Homo sapiens: one gene and its partners. The protein of the gene in region 2 purifies or fractionates together with the protein of the main gene of each other region. This does not show direct contact. Each region holds a gene or a part of one and is shown on either strand. Other genes may lie near its edges.

Region 1 (3,656 bases), on a different chromosome or scaffold from region 2:
TCAGGCAAAGTAGACTTCAAACAAGGAATATTATCAGAAATTGAAGAGGAATATTATATAAAGACAAACGGGTCAATTTACCAAGAAATCAGACAATCCTAAATGTATATGCATCCAACAACAGATCTTCAAAATACACAAATCAAAAATTGATAGAACTGAAAGTAGAAACAAATCCACAATTACATTTGCACACTTCAACACTCTTCTATCACCCTTCCAATCAGTAACTACATCAGTAAGAATATGAATATCTGTAATTGTAAGTATATACAGAACACTATCAACCAACTTGACCTAATTGACATTTACAGAATGCTACATCCTACAAGAGCAGAATACACATTATTTCCAAGTGTACATGGGACATGCACCAACACAGGCCACATTGTGGGCCATAAAACAAACCATATAAAGAATGTTCTCTACCCACAATAGAATTAAACTAGAAACCAACAAAGCAAAAAGATACCTGGAACTTCACAAAGTGGTTTTTCCAGAAGCAGAAAATTAGTACACACTTACATAATAATCAAACCCCATTTAAATAATTTCCAGGTCAAACCAACCTCCTAATATCTAATAACTCTATTAAATAAAAGCTAGATGTGACAGAACATTTAGACTATTACTTCTTTTCCCAACACTCATTTTGAAATAATATAGAATAGATAAAAGAATCAACAAGAGAGAGAAATCTGGCCAGGCGTGGCGGCTCACGCCTGTAATCCCAACACTTTGGGAGGCCAAGGTGGGCAGATCACCTGAGGTCAGGAGTTCGAGACCAGCCTGGCAAACACAGTGAAACCTCATCTCTACTAAAACACAAAAGTTAGCCAGGTGTGGTGGCGTGCACCTGTAATCCCAGCTACTCGGGAGGCTGAGGCAGGAGAATTGCTTGAGCCCCAGAGGCAAAGGTTGCAGTGAGCCAAGATTGTGCTACTGCACTCCAGCCTGGGTGACAGTGAGACTCTGCCTCCAAAAAAAAAAATAAATAAATAAATAAAAGAGAAATCTGTCTGTGCAAACATACACATACCATGAAACTGCATACAGACCTTTTTTCTGCCGGGGTTTTTGAGACTCAGTAGATACAGGAAATTGAGTTCTCTGAAATGAAATAAGTAGTCTATATTGAAGCACCACAATATAAACTTGCTAACTTAAAGAAGCATCCAAATAACAAGAATAATCAGTAGCTCACCAATTATGCAATTAATCCATTAAATCCATATTGTGATAGAGTTACTTTAAATATGGTTTAAAAAACAAATGTCAAGTCATACTTTTGCTATCCAAACTATTAACAATGTATAACACATATTTATAATATTTACAATGTGCATTTTTAATGTATAATTATAGTATATAGTAAAATGTGCATAAGAAATATACTCAGTTCTTAAACACCTCATATGAGTATTATACTTGATGCCATACTTCTCAGCAGCCAAACCAAAAAAGTGATCGCTGTTTGATAAAAGGAAGCTTATGAGATCATCTACACAGAAACTGTCTAGCACTCAATTCTAAAAGGGAGATAGTTATTTTCCACTATAACCTCATAGAAAACCATCAAATGAATTTTTCTTTTCTCAACTTCCTATGACATACCACAATATAAGCAAAAATAATGGCTCAAATTTTTCCAGATGTAATGAGAAACACCAATCCTTAGTTTCTGGATACTCAACAAATCCTGACCAGGTTAAATGAAAATAAATACATACTTAGATACATCATAGCGAACTGCACCAGAGACAAGAAGCAGCTCTTAAAAGCAGCCAAACAAGAAAACATATCACCAGATTACCAACAAAGAAAGGACAGTTATTTGAGAGGCCAAGGCGAGAGGATCACTTGAGGTCAGGAGTTCAAGACCAGCCTGGACAACATGGTGAAACCCCGTCTCTACTAAATATACAAAAATTAGCTCGGCATGGTGGCACGTGCCTATAGTCCCAGCTACTTGGGAGGCTGAGGCAGGAGAATGGCTTGAACTTGGGAAGCAGAGGTTGCAATGAGCCAAGATCGTACCATCGCCCCCCGGCCTGGGCAACAGAGCAAGACTACGTCTCAAAAAAAAAAAAAAAGGAAAGAAAGGCCAGACGCCGTGCCTCATGCCTGTAATTGCAGCACTTTGGGAGGCCAAGGCAGGTGGATCACCTGAGGTTAGGAGTTCAACACCAGCCTGGCCAACATGGTGAAGCCCCATCTCTACTAAAAATACAAAAATTAGCTGGGTGTGGTGGCAGGCACCTGTAATCCCAGCTACTTGGGAGGCTGAGGCAGGAAAATCGCTTGAACCCAGAAGGCAGAGGTTGCAGTGGGCCAAGATCACACCACTGCACTCCAGCTTGGGCGATAAGAGCAAAACTCCATTTCAAAAAAAAAAGAAGAAGAAAAAGAAAAACAAAAAAGACTGACAGCTGGCTCTTCAACAATTAAAAATGGAAGACAATATCACAATAAGACATCATAAGAATAATTACTCCAGTGTCAGGTACTAAGTAAAATGAATGTTAATTTAGACCAGAGGTCAGCAAACTATGGCCCACAGGTCAAATCCATCCTGTTTATTTGGTCTACAAGCTACGAATGATTTTTACATTTTTATATGGTTAAAAAAATTCAAAAAATAATAATTTTTAACACATGAAAATTGAGTCAAATTTCAGTGTCTATAAACAAAATTTGTGAGAACATACCCACACTCATGTTTACATAATGTCTATGGTTGCTTTTGTCCTACAACAGCATTGCTGAGTAGTTGTCAGAGAGACTCTATGGCCCACAAAGCCCACAATATTTACTATCTGGCCCTTTACAAAAAAAGGTTTGCTAACACCTGATCTAGATTCTCTCACCCATCAAAACTAATTTTCAACAACAAAGGCAAATTTTTAAAACTTTCAGAATTTGAGAGTTTTTAGATTCTCACCAAATAAACTTTTAATGAAAATATATTAGGAAAAAGAAAAATAATCCCAGAACAAAGGAGTGGAATAAGCAAAGGAATTGGTAAAATAAGCAAGTATTCTAAGCATCTACTGACTGAATAAAACAAACAAAAAGCATAATTTGTGGTGTTTAATTAAAATACATTAAGAACTACAAAACTAAACAACAATGGCATACATTTGCAGATGGCAATAGATGGTAGTAAAGCATTTGATGGTCCCTGTAGTAGCAACATTTAGGCCTGGACTTACAGTAAACATGTATTTTTTAATTTCTTTGGTACTCATTAAAGGAAGGCAAAGTATAACTTCCAAGGCATGAAATAAGAGGAGCAGAAAGGGAGGGGTAACAGATGGAAATTCAGTTTTTTTAAAAAAAAGAAAGGAGGTAGAAAAAAATGCAATTCTCCAGTTTAAGACAGATAGATCAGCCAGGTGTGGTGGCTCACACCTATAATCCCAGCACTTTGGGAGGCTGAGGCAGGAGGATCACACGAGCCTAGAAATTTGAGAACAGCTTGGGCAAAACAGCGAGACTCTGCCTCTATAAAAAAAACTTTAGAAATTAGCCAGGCATAGTGGCAGGTGCCCTTAGTCCTAGCTACTCAGAAGGCTGAGGTGGGAGGATCTCTTAAGCCCAGGAAGCGGAGTTGCAGCAAGCCATGATTGGACCACTGCACTCCAGCCTGAGGAACA
Region 2 (3,656 bases):
CAGTAGAAGGTCAATAAGCCCCAATGTTGAAACCAATAGAAAACATGAGAGGCAAAAAGTGTGAAATTAGAAAAGGGATGATGAGAGGAAGACACCAGAAAACAGAGCAGAGCTACTTTTGTATCCACCTAAGAAACACAAGGTGGATACAAACCTAGTGTTTATATCCTGAACACATTTCTGTTCCTTGAAACCAAAAAAAGTAAAACTAGAACAGCAACCTAACCTCCAAATAAGGAAGTTGCAGGCAACTACTTCTGGGACAAAGTAACCTTAAATCTCAAGGCTGAGCAGGAGTTAACTGATACAAAAAGCTCTGCTTAAGTGGTGTCAAGAAGGCTTAAAGGAAATTCAAGGCAGAAGAAAGAGCACATATGAAGATACAGAAGTAGGAGAAGAGAATATTCAGGAAAGTCTAAGTAGCTGAGCACAGCTGGGCTATCTAGTATAAGGGGAAGAGTGGCAGGAGCTGAGGCTGGAGAAGTACATACAGTCAGTTTTCAAAGGGTCTTGGATGCCAAGGATTTACATTCCATCTTGAAGGATATAGGGAATCACGGAAAGGCTTTAAGCAGGAAAGTAAAATGTTCAGGTTAGTGTTTTAGAAAGGTCATTCTCATTGGTGCATAAAGGAGGCAATGGACATAAAGAGAGCTGGGAAACAGCTATACCAGTCTGAAGGCTATTTGGAAGGAGGGTGAAGGTTTGAATGGAAGCAGTGGCAGTGCAGTGAAGGTAAAGGGATGTCTTCCAGATAATTAAGTTAGTAGTATCTATTAGACTTGGTAAGTAATTACATAAGAAAGAGTCAAGGACAAATAACAGGTTCTACTTAGGTGCCTGAGTAAATTATAATTTGAATTAGGGCAGACAAAAAGAGGAAGAACAGATTTGGAAGAAGTGATAAATTCAGATTTGAACATGTTTGAATTCATTCTTTCATTTACACATCTTTATTGAATACCCAGTATGTGCCAGGCAATGTGTTAGGTGCCAAGTGTAAACTGCTTCTGAGATATCCAGGTGATAATGACCAGCAGGCAGTTAGATACAGAAATCTCAAACTAAAAGGAAATGTCTGGCTTATATAGAAATGTAGACATGGAAGTTATCTTCATAAAAATGAGTGCTGAAGCTGTGTTGATAGATGTGATGACCATGGGGAGAAGTGGGTTGATTTGGAAGAGTGCCAGCAATAGAGTAAGAGTGGAAGCACCAACAGTTAAAGGAAGAAGTACTGGGGTTACCACCCTTTTCCTAGTTTTCCTTCTGGCCCAATGACTGAAAAAGAACAGCTTTGAGTGAGGAAGAAATTAAGACAGTAAAGTTACAAAAACCAAGAAAGAAAACAATTTAAGCACCACATTACACAGAAAAATCAAGTTAAGATGAATACTGAAGTAGGCAGAAGAATAAATGTGAGGAGAAATATATAAAATAAAGTAATAAAGAAGGAGAGATTGGAGAAAGATGGGGAGGTTTAACTAATCAAAGTCTTAGAGGAAGCAGAAAGGAATAGAATCCCAAAACTCAGGCAAAAGAAACAGTGAGAAACCATGTGAACTCAGACAGAATAGAAATAAAGACAAACAGTTTTAAAATGTTGACAATGCCTTTCCCTCTTCCCATCCAATAGTGGGACTGAATCTGTACACCAGATAATTACGAAGGTTCCTTCTAGTCTGAACATTCTAGATTTAAGACGAAATAATAATTTGGGAGGCATTTGTCTCTCACCCCTATATTCCTCTAATGGATATGGAATGTACAAAGTTACCTGAGAAAAGTTAAAGACCGGTTGTGTTGTGCCCCATGCGATGACAGATCTGGTGACTTCCTCTGTGCTGAAGAGTTTACAATTTAAATAAACATTGCATGGTGATTGTTTCTCAGATTCTCCACTAATAAAATCTTTCCCATCTGGCACCATCAACAGCACATGCAACAGCAAAGCACTCTCTTTTGTTGTCCCATTTGTCTGATTGACTAAATTATGGGAGGCTGGCGTAGCTACGAAGGTTGAAGGATGTGGTGCTACAGGGCTTGGTGACTTTCGGTTGGGGAGCACCAAGTTCTGTGCTTTCTTTGCAGTTTCCTCATGAATTTGGTTTAAGTTTTGTGGATTTTTGGTACAGGTCATATCTTGGTTAAGTTCTGGTAGTGCCTTATTTGGACTTGTAGGAGCACAAAGTGGGGTATAATGGGTGTTGCCACTTAACTTAGTATTGATACCAGTGAAATCTTTGTTATCTGTAATAAGCTCCATGGTTACCTGTAAAACACAAAAGGAGAAGAGTCAATAAGAATGTCCTTTAGAATTGGAATTAGAATTTTGAGGCTGGAAACAACATCAGATTATTAGGAAATGAATTAACTCATCCTCAAACACTCTAATAGTAAGAATATTAACAGAATGCATATACATTAACTTGCTAGACTAAGAAAAACTAGACAGATGATTTATCAATAACAAAAGATGAGCCTGGAAGATCAAGTTATGCCAGAATATAAGATAGTTCCCAGAAAAGAATGGAGCCATGTTTAAAGGACCCAGAATCCAGCTGAAGAGGCTCCCACTGGCTAAATCTAGGACAACTTAAGCATCAGAATGAATAACAGTAATGGATTATAAACTATTGAATAAGAATCCATGAATCCATCCTGATATAAAATAAATATGAGAGAAGAAACAGCTTCTCTATATAGAATGCCAATTAATAAATGCAAAAGAGACGGTAGAGTTAGAAATCACCATTTGACAATCATCACAGTAATAAGTGATTCAGGTTAACCCCAGTGGAGGAACATTCTTTAAAATAACTGGCATTACTTAAAAATATCAGCATATTGAAAAATAAAGAAAGGCTGCAGAACTGTTCCTGACTAAAGGAGATTAGGAAGATCTGACAAAATGCAATAGATAATCCTGGACTAGAAAAAAATATTTGCTATAAAGGCACTGGTATAATTGGTGAAATCTCAGTATAGCCTGCAGATATAGTATCAATGCTATGCTGACTTTTGTAACTCTAGAGTATTATGCATGATGATGTCCTTGTTCTAAGGAAATACATAAAATATAAACTAAAGAATTTAGGGGGAAAGAGGCATGATGTACAACTTACTCTCAAATAGTTCACAAAAAAATGTGTATGTACATGTATGGGGGGAGGAGATAAAGGGACAGAGAGAGAGAGGCAGAGAAGAGGCAGACAGACAATTATAAAGAAAATGTGACAAATAGTAAGAATTGGGGAGTCTCAGTAAAGGGTATAAAAAAGTCTAAATAATTAAAAAGTAAAAAAGAAAAGGGAAGCAGGATAAATGATGAATTTAAAGAACAGAAGTGGTCACTAACTGTTAGGAGACTCAATTACTAGGGGTAAAAGGTTCTTGCTGTTTCTTCGATCTGAAATCCTAAGTGTTACATAGCAAGGTTCTTTTACTCTGTTGAATATAGACAGCAATCTATCCAGAATAGTATTTCTCTCAAAAGAGCCAGAACAGAAAAAATTTCTAGTTGATCAATCCTATTTATAACCCCTTTCTGATTTTAAACTTTGTAGTTCAGAATGAACCAGGCAGACAAAAACTATAACTTGGATAGCAAGAGTAGGTGATGTTAATTTTTTGCAATAATAATTGTGTAAGTCTTT
Region 3 (3,656 bases), on a different chromosome or scaffold from region 2:
ATGTGACAATTTATATAAAAACTTCATTTAAACAACTTTTATCTTCATTTTTCACTAATATTTCCAACAGCTAGTCTCATATATAGACATATATAAAATGCACTTAGAATTGCTTACTTACATAAGTATGTTTTTCTTTCATGTAATCACACAAATTACAGTGTGACTATATGCTTTATCCTTAAAAGAAATCTGATATCAAATATGAAAGAGTGACATCTGCTGTTTTTCATGCTCAGCATCCAATGCCACTGCTTATGGTCAGAGGACCATTATTTTTCTTTTTTTTTTTTTTTTGAGACGGAGTCTCATTCTGTTGCCAGGCTGGAGTGCAGTGGCGTGATCTCCACTCACTACAACCTCCACTTTCTGGGTTCAAGCGATTCTCCTGCCTCAGCCTCCCAAGTAGCTGGGATTACAGGCACATGCCACTACACCCAGCTAATGTTTTCGTATTTTGAGTAGAGATGGGGGTCTCACCATGTTGGCCAGGATGGTCTCGATCTCCTGACCTTGTGATCCGCCCACCTTGGCCTCCCAAAGTGCTGGGATTACAGGCATGAGCTACTGAGATTACAGGCGTGAGCCACCACGCCCGGCCAGGATCGTTATTTTTCTTTAGGGTACCACTCCTCTTTCTCTTGCCCTCTTCAGTTTCAGTGGCAATGGTCTCAGTCTATTTCTGGGACTTCAGGAGGAAGCATTGAGCAGTACATTCCATACCCCTGACCACAGTGGTTCATGGCTTAACAATGATACTCAATCCTGGGACTTTTATTGGAGCCAGTGGGCAAGAGAAGCTCTATAGCAGCTGAAAATATGTAAGACTGGATTCTAGGAACTGCTGGTGGCCATAACACTGCATGGTAAAGCCAAGAAAAGATAAAAGCAGAACTGAACAAGGGATAAAATCTTGATGACATCAATTAAGCCACTGATCCAGTTGTGCGTGAGGCAGATTACTGCTAGACTTTTAAGTTATGTGAGCCGATAAATTTATTTTATTTGGTTAAGCTGCTTGCATTTGGTTCCTTTTTACGATGACCAAGTTTCCTAATTAATATATATCATCTTTCATATAGTTAATGTTACCTTTTCATTTGGTTTTCACACACACACAAATGATGTATACCAACTAGCTATATGCAAATGATAATTGCTTTGGTCCGTTGTGGTGGCTCACGCCTGTAATCCCAGCACTTTGGGAGGCCAAGGCGGGCAGATCACTTGAGGTCAGGAGTTCGAGACTAACCTGGCCAACATGGTGAGACCCGTCTCTACTGAAAATACAAAAATTAGCCAGGCGTGGTAGCACACTCCTAAAATTCCAGCTACTCAGGAGGCTAAGGCATTAGAATCACTTGGGCCTGGGAGGAGGAGGTTGCAGTGAGCTGAGATTGAGACACTGCACTCCAGCCTGGGCTGATGAGTGAGACCCTGTCTCAAAACAAATAAAAAAAAAGATAATTTTTTTTTCTAGAAAGATAAATAATACACCCTTACTACTTTGATCTCAATTATGTTTTAGAAATCATGACATTTCTATTAGTCTTTAATCTTAACAGATGATATTTAGTAAACACATAGTGCCAGGTACTATAGAATGACTCAAATGGTTATCTTCTTTTAATCATCATAACAATTCAATAAAGTAAGTGCTATTATTTTCATTCCTCAGAAAAGAAAACTGAAGTTCAGAGAGTTAAGCAACCAGCTAGGGTCACACAGCTGGTAAGTCACAGAGCCAGGATTGAAACATTAGTACATCTGCCTCCAAAGCACATACTTCTACACTACCTCCATACACATATATTTTATTCAGGCATCCGAAAAACATCTGTTGAGTACCTATTATGTGCAAAACTATGTTTTAGGTCCTTGCAGGCTACATACAAAGATATTTAAAATTAGACTGTCCATGAAAATAAAGTTTAACTTAGAGAAATAAGTTTGTATAAAAATTATTAGAGGCCGGGCTTGGTGGCTCATGCCTGTAATACCAGTACTTTGGGAGGCTGAGGCAGGCAGATCACGAGGTCAAGAGATCAAGACCATCCTGGCCAACACGGTGAAACTAGTCTCTACTAAAAATACAAAAATTAGCTGGGCGTGGTGGCACATGCCTGTAGTCCCAACTACTCGGGAGGTTGAGGCAGGAGAATCACTTGAACCCAGGAGGTGGCGGTTGCAGTGAGCCAAGATCGTGCCACTGCACTCCAGAATGGCAACAAAGCAAGACTCTGTCTCAAAAAAAGAATAAAATAAAAAATAAAAAATTATTATATACTTTAAGCAGATAACAATAAATATCACAGACAAGTAAGAAAAAATGCTATGGAAACAGAGAAGAGAATCAAGGGAGAATCAAAGAAGGCTTCAAAAATGTAGCTACTGCAGGATGCAGTAGCTTGCACCTATAATCCCAGCTACTGGGGAGGCTGAGGCAGGAGGATTGCTTGAAGCCAGGAGTTTGAGACCAGCTTGGGCAACACAGTGAGACTCTCTTAAAAAAAAAAAAGTAGCTATTAAGTTGGACCTTAAAGGATAAACAGTTTTGAATCTTAAGAAAAAATACTCAAAGACACAGAATGATAAAAGAGCAAAGGTCTGCTATTATAAAAGTATATAATATGCTAGGGGCATGTTGAATTGTCTGCTATGATTAATGTGTGAGGTTCATTGTGGTACTTCAAAATGGGAGTAATTATTACAGGTTTAGACACAGATAAGCTTCCTTGGACGGTACAGTGAAAAACCTCCACAGAATGGATGTTAAAAACCAATTAGATTTCTGAAGAGTTCTTGGTTCTAAAAGGCTGAATTCTGAGGTAAAATTATGTTTTTAGAATAATACTGTTATTATCCTAAAATAACAAGAGAAGCAAGAGGTATTCTACTTCTTGCTCTCTAGTTGAGACTTTACCATGCTAAGTTTTTAGAACTTAGGAGAAAACCACAATAATCTGCTTAGGGAAAGAACCTTAAGAGGCAGAGGCAGAGAAAGAATAATGAGCTCTCTCCCAGACAAATAACACAAAGCAAAAAAAACAAAAACACACACACACACACACACACACACACACACACAAAACAAACAACCTACAGGCCAGGTGTGGTGGCTCACGCCTATAATCCCAGCACTTTAGGAGGCCAACGCAGGAGGATTGCTTGAGCTCAGGAGTTTGAGACCAGCTTGACCAACATGGTGAAACCCTGTCTACAGAAAATAAAAAAATTAGCTGGGCATGGTGGTGCATGCCTGTGGTCCCAGCTACTCAGGAGGCTGAGGTGGGAGGTCAAGGCTGCAGTAAGCCGAGATCATGCCACTGCACTCTAACCTGGGTGACAGAGTGAGATCCTGTCTCAAAACAAACAAACAAAACAAACAGCAACAACAACAAAAAAACAAAAACAAAAAACAACCTACAGATGTGAGAATGAGAATGCAAAGACTTTGAAGAAGCAGGAGGATCCAAGCTTAATGGGTAGAGGTAGAGATATTGGCCTTGCCCAAGAAGTAGGCCATTTCACATTCAGAGACAGGTTAAAAAAAGGAAGGAAAAGTTTAGTTTCTACTATATTGAGAAGTTGAGAGGAATTATTGGAGCTTATAGAAGATGAGTTAGAAGTGATGGTGGAGGAGCGAGGGGTGCAAC

Evidence for each region.
Region 1: the proteins of C2CD3 (region 2) and BBS4 purify together in Homo sapiens (co-immunoprecipitation; one study listed by IntAct). This does not show direct contact.
Region 3: the proteins of C2CD3 (region 2) and BBS7 purify together in Homo sapiens (co-immunoprecipitation; one study listed by IntAct). This does not show direct contact.

The regions. Positions count from the first base shown.
Region 1 is NC_000015.10:72,692,631-72,696,286, reverse strand, and holds part of BBS4 (BBSome complex member BBS4), read right to left. Parts: intron 1,111-3,656; coding exon 1,059-1,110; intron 1-1,058.
Region 2 is NC_000011.10:74,101,354-74,105,009, forward strand, and holds part of C2CD3 (C2 domain-containing protein 3), read right to left. Parts: intron 2,273-3,656; coding exon 1,778-2,272; intron 1-1,777. UniProt on the Homo sapiens protein: Component of the centrioles that acts as a positive regulator of centriole elongation.
Region 3 is NC_000004.12:121,828,957-121,832,612, forward strand, and holds part of BBS7 (BBSome complex member BBS7), read right to left. Parts: intron 1-3,656.